Linked DNA regions of Homo sapiens. The protein of the gene in region 1 interacts with the protein of each later gene in a biochemical or structural test. Each region holds a gene or a part of one and is shown on either strand. Other genes may lie near its edges. The genes, in order: MAP3K4, MAPK8 and RAC1.

Region 1 (3,655 bases):
GCTTTTCTCTGAATTGTGAGATGCGCAGACTGCATGACAACTAGTAAAAGATTATCCACCTGGGAGGAAAATCAAGCACAGGACATAAAAACCAACCCAGTTACTAGTTGTTATTCTAGTTCAACACCAGTCCAAAAACAATGCCAATCTCAGGGATACCAGGCCAACAACCATCTAATCAGAAAGTCATTTTTAAGCAAAGCTTCTCCTACACAGCAACACGCTTCAGTGGGCATTGACAGCTGGGATATTCAGCACCACGGAGAAGAACCCTTTGGGACTGCAGGCATGACATCTTTGAGATATCCTAGAACTTCAAGTAGTTCAGTACTGCCAGTGCAGAGTGTGTGTGAGTGTGTGTGTGTATGTGTGCATGTGTGTGTGTATTGGAGCAGCATATGAAGAAGGAAAATGTAGGAATAAGACAGAAATAAGATGAGGGGCCTTATATAAAACATTAAGAAATCAAGACTTTATTACTTTTGTTCTTAAGAGATGAAGAATCTTTGCAGTATTTTAAGTAGATCTGTGATGCAATCAGATGTATTATAATGATCATTCTAGAAGCACAAAAACAAACACAGAATTGGAGAGACAGAAGGTGAGGTTTGAAGCAGGGAAACTCAAAGTCAGAAACTGCAATAGTTCAGGAGAGGGATGGTAAAGTGCTGACTACAGCAGCTGCTCTGGGGATGCAGGGAAAGGATCATTTACTGGAAATGCTTCTGGCTTTCCAGGGCAAGGTATTAACTGGAAAGATGGGAGGCTGAATTTATATTAGCTGTCACACTTCTGGTTTAAACATGTGAGTGAACGCGGAACCATTCACTGAGACGGAATATAAAAGCAGAGTTGTTGGGGTGAGGGATACAGCAGGCCAGTGTATACTCAGTTCTGGTGAGGCTGAGCTCAAGGTGCATATGAACACTCACCATGACTGTTCCTAAGCTGAACACAGATAAATGAGAAAGCTTCTCATAGTTTATAACTAATGAGTTATAGAAACTGTCACGAGGTCCCTGTTAGGTAGGGAGGGGATAGCCTTCACTACAAAAAATTAAAATTAAATAACCAGTAAACCTGAGTACTTGGAGAACTGGGATTTCTAGAACTACAAATTATATTAGTGACATAACTCCTTTTAGATCATAGCTCCACAGATCTAACTACATGACTGAACTAAGAAAAGATATAAACCAGATAGATGGTTTATTTCAAGTATTCCAGTATAATTTAACTTAACAGAATGATATATTGTACAAATTATGCTGCAAAATGACCTATTAACACATTGAGGCATATTTTTGGGAAGTATATACTTGTGATTACTAGGGTAGTCAAACCCCTCATTCATGAGCAGCTAACAGTTCATTCTTACTAAAAGTCCTTGAAGTAACACTGCTGCAAAGATGGAGATGAGCTGTACCTGCATGCTTCTCAGGGTGTCAACAGTCTCCACCTGAGGCACGACTTTGACAGGCTGTGCCTCCCAGGTGCCCCAGCTGTCCTCTGAATCACGGGCTCGATCACCGTGCTTGGTCAGAAGCAGATAGGCATCGATGAGTACGTCATCTGAATCTTTTGAACAGTCCTTTCCTGCAGCTGCATTGAGTAACTGCAAAATAATACTCTTCTCCTCAGCAAGAGTGTCTGGAACAAACATTTGCAAGTTTTCTAACCCAGGAATTTGCACCTGCAAAAGACATAATCCAAAATCTTAAGGAACACTGTACATTAGAGAAATAGGTTATTTAAAACAAACCTAGGAAAGGAGAGGCAGGTTTGGGAAAGGGAAAGTGGGAAGGGCATGAATTGGAGCAGTGAGGGAACTGCAGGTAGCCGGCTTCAGTGTGACTGAAGGAGGCAGGAGGAGGAGAGTCTGTGAACGCACTGGAGGAGAGGCCTTACAGAGTCTCCCCGATTATTGGACATCCTCCTCACTGCTTTATTTTCAACAACAAAGAAAATACTCGACGGGGAGGCAAGGCAGCCTGAAAGAACCTCAACCACTGCTAGTTTGTGATGCTTACAAAAAGTCACCTGGCTTGGGAAAAAGGCAAAAATTGTTAATACAGATTCTCTAATTATTCCAGGGCAGGGAGCCAGGGGTTCATCACAAGAAGGCTCCTTGAGATCAGTTTCTCAAAGGGTACACATGTGGTGGCACGCTGCAGGTCATCCCTCCCACTCTCAGTATGGGAGCGGGATACAACTGTGGGCTTGGGATAAAATGTCCAGTGATGACATCACATACGGATTCTAACTGTGCTAAATCTCCAACAACTTAAAGTGGAGTAAAGTTGCTGACTCAAAAAGTGGCTCTAGTGATGACCAGGATCTTGATGTCAAAGATTCACTGTAAAACCTTTGAACTGCATCAGGAAATATAAGGGTGAAAAACAAAACCATAATTTAAAATGAATATTATCTCCTTATACACATTATTTTAAATATGTGTAACTAAATTAATAAACAGCATGAGTAAACTTTTTATTATTTATCTACACTCTGAAGACAAGTTAGTAAGTCAAGTATGAAAAAGACTGTTTCATTATTCCACTGGTGAATTACAGGACAGTCTTACAACTGGGGTTGTGGTACAGCCTTCAGAGCCTGTAATATTTACTATCTGGACCTTCAAGAAAAAGTCTGCCTGTTTTAGAATAAAGAAGGAAAGGCAAAATGTTTCAATCACAACATTTGAAGTACTTACCTTGACATACTGTTTTGATTTCAGAACATCCAGGAGGTCTCTAACTGGGGCTGAAAGCCTGAATTCTGCTGCTATTTCCAGGTCCTAGGATCACAGTTACAAAGAAACTTCTTTACGGTTAGCATTAAAAAAATAAGATAAAAGAAAAACAAGAAAAAAGGTACTAATTAATCAGGATTGCAAGCTCACCTTTCTCAACATTTTAGCAAATCCAAGTGCTTTGGAAGCCCTTTCTCTGGCTTCATGGAAGAGCTCCTTCAGGGCTCGACTGATCTCTATAACAGACCTCCTGCCAAGTGGATTCAAGTCCAGTTAGAACACATTAGGGAATATTCCAGAGGTGCAAGAGGGATTTAACAATAAAGATGAAGCAAATTCCAAATCACAGTAATAAATAAAGACTGAGGATTTTTTAAATGGGAACAAACTATTATTGAAGATGTAGTCAAAACATTCAGAAGCCTGCTCCTGACAGTTTTGTAGAAAATATTCATATCCTTTCAATGTAAGCAGGGCACATTTAATAACCTTCAAATAATAGGAAGCTCAATTTTCTTAACATTTCATTATGATCATTTCTTGGAGTTTAAGGTTAAGTTCTTAACTCCTGGCTCGTAATCTAAAAAGAAATCTATACAGTGTGATCTGGGAAATATTTAACAACTGGGTGACCCTAAATTACTATCTTATGTAATGCATGCCGATTTCTGTGGTGTAAATACTCCCATCATAGCTAATTTCAAGGCAGCAGTATGATGTCCCTGAGCAATGAAATGGGAAGAGATGTGCATGATCAGCTCTCTCAAGCCGGGAGAAGCAGCTCCAGCACACCACTGCCCATGGCCCCCTGAACTGGAACCGCTCTCTAGTTCACCATCTTCATTCCTGCCTTCTCATGTTTCTTTGGAATCTACATGCTTGGGGTTATTTTGAACCCACCAT
Region 2 (3,655 bases), on another chromosome or scaffold:
GTGGGAGCAGGGGAAGGGAAGAAGAGACAGAAAATAAACTATTTAATCCCCATTAAGCAATGAGATCTCTACTGAAGTTCAGCTAAGTACCTAACTACCATATAATTTTATAAGGATGAGCAACCTGCCCCAATCCAGTTGCCAAATCAAACTCACTCTTTGCACCCTCTCACTCCTGTGCTTTCCTGACTTGATTTTTGCATTTTTCCAAGCTTAAGACCCTCCTGTCTACATTCATTCACTTCATACTTCTCATATCTTGACCTCTACTTTGACTGCATGCTCTCTGACACCAGACTAAATTATATTTCCGGGAGCTGCCTCTGGGTGCTAAGCACATAGAAAGCAGCCTATACACATAGTCACACCTTGCTTAAGGACGGGGATACCTTCTGAGAAATGCATCATTAGGCAATTTCGTCACTGTGCAAACATCATGGAATCTACTTACACCAACCTAGATAGTACAACATACCTAAGCTATAATATGGTGTAGCCTACTGACCCTAGGCTACGAACCTGTACAGCAGGTTACTGTACTGAATACTGCAGGCAACTGTAACACAATGGGAAGTATTTGTGTATCTAAACATAGAAAAAATAGAGTAAAAATATGGTATAATTTTATGGGACCACTGTCACATATGTGGTCTGTAATGGACCGAAACCTCACCATGTGGTGCATGACTGTATCATCAAATAAGACACAAGGCAGTTAACTGCTAATCCTACATTCACTATCAAGTGATCCCCAACTTGTCCATTTAACATTTTGAAAACCACAATTCATTTCAAGTTACATTAACTTTAGAGAGAAAACTTCACACTACTTTAAGTATTCCCATAATCCCTCCCTAATTTCATTATTATTCATAACATTTAAATACTCAACAGATAAACAGATATTTTGGCTCATTTTACATATAATGGAGGAAAACTATAATCTTCTAAAATCACCACTATAAATGCAATAAGAAAAAATATAAGAGTATAAAAAGTTGGGGGAGGGAGGAGGTAAAAATCAAAGGAAACAAAAAAGCTGGCATGACATAAGAAAAATAAAAAATTCAACTACAAAACTATTAGAAATAATAAATATTCTACAGGGGGCTTATTATTTAATATATGAAATATTAACTAATATACAAAATAAAAAGCTTTCTTATATATAACCAGATAGAAGATAAAAGTGGAAAAAAAGATGCCATTTCCAGCAAAAAAAAAAAAACTTAAATATATAAAACAGCAAAAAAAAATTTTAATGTTTAAAAATGCTATCAGGAACTCAAAATGAGACTTCAACAAATGAAAAGGTTGTTTTTCCTATTCTTGGATATAAAGGTACATCATAAAGCTGTCACTTATTCTATAAATACAAAGAAATCCTAACAGTACACTGAATCCATTTAATAGAAGCCAATCACTGGGGAGCAAGGTAACTTGAAAAGGATGTAAGAAAAGGTTCTGGGTGATGGAAGTGTTCTGTATTTTGATCTGGGATTGCACAAGTGTATACAAAGGCAAACTTATTGGACTGTAATGCTTGTGCATCTAGCTGTGCATAATTTTACCACAATAAAATAAAAAAAGTGATTCCAACAGAAAGACTGGCAGAGGAGGGGTACAGACTAGACTAGATGGGTTGTTTTTAGAAGTTCATATAAAATAAACAAGATAGAAGCCAGAAAAAAACTTCTGAAAAGGAAGAGAAATAAAAGGGAATTAGACCTAGCAGAAAACACAGCATAAACTACAATAATAAAAACAGGATGGCTCAGGTCCCAAACAGGCAGATGGGTCAATGGAAACAATGGTACCAAATACACGTGGAAATTTTGTAAATGGTAAAGGTGGCATTTTAAATCAGTTAAGACAAAGATGGATTATTTAATAAATGGTGTAGGGACAAATGGATGGATATCTGGTGAAGAAAATAAAGTTGGAACCATACATAATAGCCTACCATAGAATGGAAAACAGCAAATTGGGGAAAAACATTTCCAAAAAATAGCATGGAGCCAATTTGTAAAATTAATCCTACAAATCTAGGAAAATGAGCAACAAAGCAATAGAAAAACATGCAAAGACAAGGACAGTTCAAAAGAAAGAAAACACAAACAGCCCTTAAAAGATGAAAGACGTCTAAGGGTAATAAGAAGCAGGCATCCTTACACAGTGCTGGTGGAATGGAAGTTGGACAACCTCTACAGGCTACACTTCAGCAATACATAAAATTACAAATGCACATACGCTGGCCTAGGAACTCTACCTCTGGAAATTTATCCTATGCATTTAAGTGCAACACGACGTATGCACAAGGTAATCCACTGCACCATGGCTTTTGATAGCAAAAGTCTGAAAACTACCTAAATATGCATCAGAAAGGAGTTAAATGGTATACCAGTATAATGATGTTATGGACTGTCTGTGTCCCTCCAAATTCATATGTTGAAGGCCTACCCTCTAACTTGATAGTATCTGGAGGAGAGACCTTTAGGAGTTAACTAAGCCTCTCATGACTATATTAGGTCATGAGGGTGGAGCCCCCATGATAGGATGAGGAACAGACTAGAGCTCTTAGGGGCCATGTGAGGATACATCCAGAAGCCGGCCACCTATAAAGCCAGGAAAAGGACCCTCACCAGGGAACCAAATTGACTAAGTAGCCTAATCTTGAACTTCCCGACCTCCAGAACTGTGAGAAATAAATTTCTGTTGTTTAAACCACTCAAGTTATGGTATTTTGATATAGCAGCCCAAACAGAGTAAGACAAATGGAATACCACAAAGATGTTAAAAAAGCATGCCATTTACATACTGATATGACTGATATAAAATAATCTCTCAGCTATATTAAAACAAAAAGCAGGCCACGTGCGGTGGCTCACACCCGTAATCCCAGCACTTTGGAGGCCAAGGCAGGTGGATCACCTGTAATCCCAGCTACTCAGGAGGCTGAGGCAGGAGAATCACCTGAACCTCGGAGGCAGAGGTGGCAGTGAGCTGAGATTGTGCCACTGCACTCCAGCCTGGGCAACAAGAGTGAGACTCCGTCTCAAAAAACAAACCAACAAGCAAAAAACAAAAAAGCAAAAGGTGATACATATTGCATGCAACAACTTACATTAAATAAAAAGGGAGGGAGCAGAGCAGAGGCTATACAGTACTGTATATATGTATGACACCTATCCTTCATTGGCAAAGCCAAAATCCATAAAGCTGTGAAAAATACGTTTTTAAAATAAGTTTAGTACAAACGTATTTGGTGGTAAAACCTGACGAGACGTAGCATAAGATTTTATAATCTTTATTCACCCTACTTGTATTTGTTATGCTTTTATAAAAATATTAATGTCTTTGATTATTTCTGGGTGTTGTTGTTGTTGTTGTTTTTTGAGACAGAGTCTACACCTCTGCCGCCCAGGCTGGAGTGTAGTGGCACGATCTCAGCTCACTGCAACCTCCGCCTCCTAGATTCAAGAGATTCTCCTGCCTCAACCTCCCAAGTAGCTGGGATTACAGGCGTACGCTACCACGCCCAGCTAATTTTTGTATTTTTAGTATAGACGGGGTATCACTATGTTGGCCAAGCTGGTCTCAAACTCCTGACCTCAGGTGATCCGCCCGCCTCGGCCTCCCAAAGTGCTCAGATTAC
Region 3 (3,125 bases), on another chromosome or scaffold:
GATCTCCCTGACCTCTGTCTTCACCATCGTTGAACTTAACGCCTGCTTTTGACCAGGTAGCGTGGAGTGTTTCAGTGGCATTTGTCATCGAAGATATGTTAGAATCTATTGTATGCTTTTGGATCTCTCCGGAGGGTTAAGACAAAATTCTAATAAAGAATCGATAAGAGGTTATATTGATTTTTGTTGTCCTCAGTCTGTACTAAACTCAAACCAAGTTCTCATGCATTACTAGGTTGGAGAAACGTACGGTAAGGATATAACCTCCCGGGGCAAAGACAAGCCGATTGCCGTATGTAAAACTTTCAGTCCACTTCAGTTTCAAGCTTTCTCTGTTCTCTCATTTCACTTCGTTTTCCTAGGATTTTTTATTAAGCCTCAAGCTCCTTGAGTGTTTTATATTTAATTCACTCAAGGTTGGGGTTTTGCTTGATGAAATAAACTTCATTAGAGTGTGATAGTTTACCCACCGGCTTGAATTAAAGCAGTTTGTGAACTGTGATCTTCTCCTCCCAAGTGAAAGGAGGGGACAGTGAGAGGGCCCCTCTCCTGGCTGGTTGGAGATGCAGATATGGAGACTCCTCCCGGAAGCCCACCTGGCTGTGAGCCGAGCCGGAGCAGGACTAACCTTGTTGCCGGGGCCTTCTTTCTCCGCTTGGGTGTCCCGTGTGGTGGGGCTGTCTGGGCGTGGCTGTGCAGTGCTGCTGAGCTAACCCCACCGTGCTTGAGATGGTGTGCTGGGTGCCGCGGTGATTCTTGGACGAGCTTGTGCATGCGCCAGCATTCTTCAAATGCCAGTTATAAAAAGCTGTTGTGTGGGATGTTTCTTTCCCTTTCAGGTACAAGGTATCAGCTGGAGGGTTGAAAGTGTAGCTTGGGAATTGTGTGCATTTCATAAAGTAGCATAATTGCCTTTTTCCAGGAGAATATTTTAGAAATCTAGCATTTTAGAATTCTTGGGCATTTTTAAATACAGGTGAATATTTGAATTTGGTTTGACACAAAATACAGAATGGATGAAGCATGCAGATGTTTGGCGTGTGCCCCGAAGCACCCTCTACTCTGTCCTCTGCACCCACCCTTTGCGCCTCTGCGTCAGCCACAGCTGCCCCGGGAGCGAGTTCTCCTGAGGCCCTGGCTGTGCTGACTCTAGGGCAGCGTGAGGGTGGTTGTCAGCTGTGAAGGTGCCACTTACACACTAAGTCCTCCTTCCTTGTGGAGGGAAGGGCTCAAGTAGCAAATATTGGAGCCCCCGCTTGGTGCTGGGAGCTGTGACAGGCAGCTCCTGAAGAAGCAGTTTAATTGGAACCAGTGACCATCTAAAACTGTTTGTACTCTAAACCAGATTTTACAGAAATATTGGAATCATACCTTTATACTTGATTTTTTCATTTTAGATAGTTAGGCGTAAAGGAAGCCTCCTGAGGGTCTGGTCTGATCCTCCTGATCCTTGAAGAGCTTCCAGCATCATTCTCCCTTCATGCTCCCCATTTTCATAAGTAACTGGTGGCTTGACATGCTGGGTTTGGTTTGGGAGCCCTCTGACAAACTGAAAGGGTGGATCAGGAAGCGTCTGACCACACCACTGGTAGACACGCTCTGCGTCCAACAAGTCCTTCCCAGCAACATGTAGAAAGCAAAGTGCATGCTTCATTCTAAGGTTGTTGTCTAAATGTTTCCCTGTGTTTCCTTTTTGTAGGATGTGTTCTTAATTTGCTTTTCCCTTGTGAGTCCTGCATCATTTGAAAATGTCCGTGCAAAGGTAGGTGGGGATTTAAAATGTGTATGTAAGTTATAGAATGATCCTCTCAGAAATAAATACTTTAAAATATCACTTAGCCTAGGAATTTTTAGTTATTTAAATTGGTTTTAGCAATTTGCTACTTAAGTACATGATTGGGTTTTTTTTTTTCTTTTGAGACGGAGGTCTCACTCTGTTGTGTCCAGGCTGGAGTTGTAGTGGTGACATCAGAGCTCACTGTAGCCTTGAACTCCTGGGCTCAAACAGTTCTCCTGCCCCAGCCTCCTGAGTTGCTGGGACCATAAATGTGCACCACCATGCGTGGCTAATCTTAAAAGAATTTTTGTATGGCTGGTTTTGTAGACCCTGGCTTGTCTCAAACTCCTGGGTTGAAGTGATCTTTCAGCTTCAGCCTCCCAAAGTGGTGGGATTATAGCTGTGAGCCACTGCATCTGGCCCATCAGCAGTTTATTTTATTTATTTATTTTTGAGAGAGTCTTTTTTTTTGTTTTTGTTTTTGTTTTTGAGATGGAGTTTCACTCTTGTTGCCCAGGCTGGAGTGCAGTGACGCAATCTTGGCTCACTGCAACTTCCGCCTCCTGGGTTCAAGTGATTCTCATGCCTCAGCCTCCCGAGTAACTGGGATTACAGGCATGCACCACCACGCCCGGCTAATTTTGTATTTTTAGTAGAAATGTGGTTTCTCCACGTCAGTCAGGCTGGTCTCGAACTCCCGACCTCAGGTGATCCGCGCGTCTCGGCCTCCCAAAGTGCTGGGATTACAGGCGTGGGCCACCGTGCCCGGCTGAGACAGAATCTTGCACTGTCATCCAAGCTGGAGTGCAGTGGCACAATCTTGGGTCACTGCAACCTCCCCCTCCCGGTTCAAGCAATTCTCCTGCCTCAGCCTCCTTAGTAGCTGGGATTACAGGTGCCCGCCAACACACCTGGCTAATTTTTGTACTTTTAGTAGAGACGGGGTTTCACCATGTTTGCCAGGCTGGTCTCGAACCCCTGGCCTCAAGTGATCCACCCGCCGCAGACTCCCAGAGTGCTGGGATTTCAGGTGTGAGCCACTATGCCCGGCCTAATACGTGGATTTTTAAAGCTTCAGGTTCTGGTTCAGAAGTTTCCTGGGTCTCATTAAAATAATGAGGCACTCAGAATTGGTCTAATAAAAATAACGACCATTTCTTTCTACTCCAGTCTCTTTCACAAACTTCTTAGTGAAAATGACAAGTGAGGCCCTTCAGTAGGGGCATTTTCAGTGGAGATAATAGCGGCAGACCTGAGACCTTGGGCTAGGTAGTTTATTCTCATTTCTGAACAGATGATGAATTTTCTCAGATGACCCTAAGAAATTGTTTTACCAAAAACAAAGTGA

The links.
Region 2: of the proteins of MAP3K4 (region 1) and MAPK8, one has a biochemical effect on the other in vitro, tested with the Homo sapiens proteins (one study listed by BioGRID).
Region 3: the proteins of MAP3K4 (region 1) and RAC1 form a complex in vitro, tested with the Homo sapiens proteins (one study listed by BioGRID).

What each region holds. Positions count from the first base shown.
Region 1 is NC_000006.12:161,085,726-161,089,380, reverse strand, and holds part of MAP3K4 (mitogen-activated protein kinase kinase kinase 4), read right to left. Parts: intron 3,003-3,655; coding exon 2,903-3,002; intron 2,798-2,902; coding exon 2,714-2,797; intron 1,694-2,713; coding exon 1,427-1,693; intron 60-1,426; coding exon 1-59. UniProt on the Homo sapiens protein: Component of a protein kinase signal transduction cascade. Activates the CSBP2, P38 and JNK MAPK pathways, but not the ERK pathway. Specifically phosphorylates and activates MAP2K4 and MAP2K6.
Region 2 is NC_000010.11:48,313,175-48,316,829, reverse strand, and holds part of MAPK8 (mitogen-activated protein kinase 8), read right to left. Parts: intron 1-3,655. UniProt on the Homo sapiens protein: Serine/threonine-protein kinase involved in various processes such as cell proliferation, differentiation, migration, transformation and programmed cell death.
Region 3 is NC_000007.14:6,398,427-6,401,551, forward strand, and holds part of RAC1 (ras-related C3 botulinum toxin substrate 1), read left to right. Parts: intron 1-235; coding exon of another isoform or gene 236-292; intron 293-1,699; coding exon 1,700-1,762; intron 1,763-3,125. UniProt on the Homo sapiens protein: Plasma membrane-associated small GTPase which cycles between active GTP-bound and inactive GDP-bound states.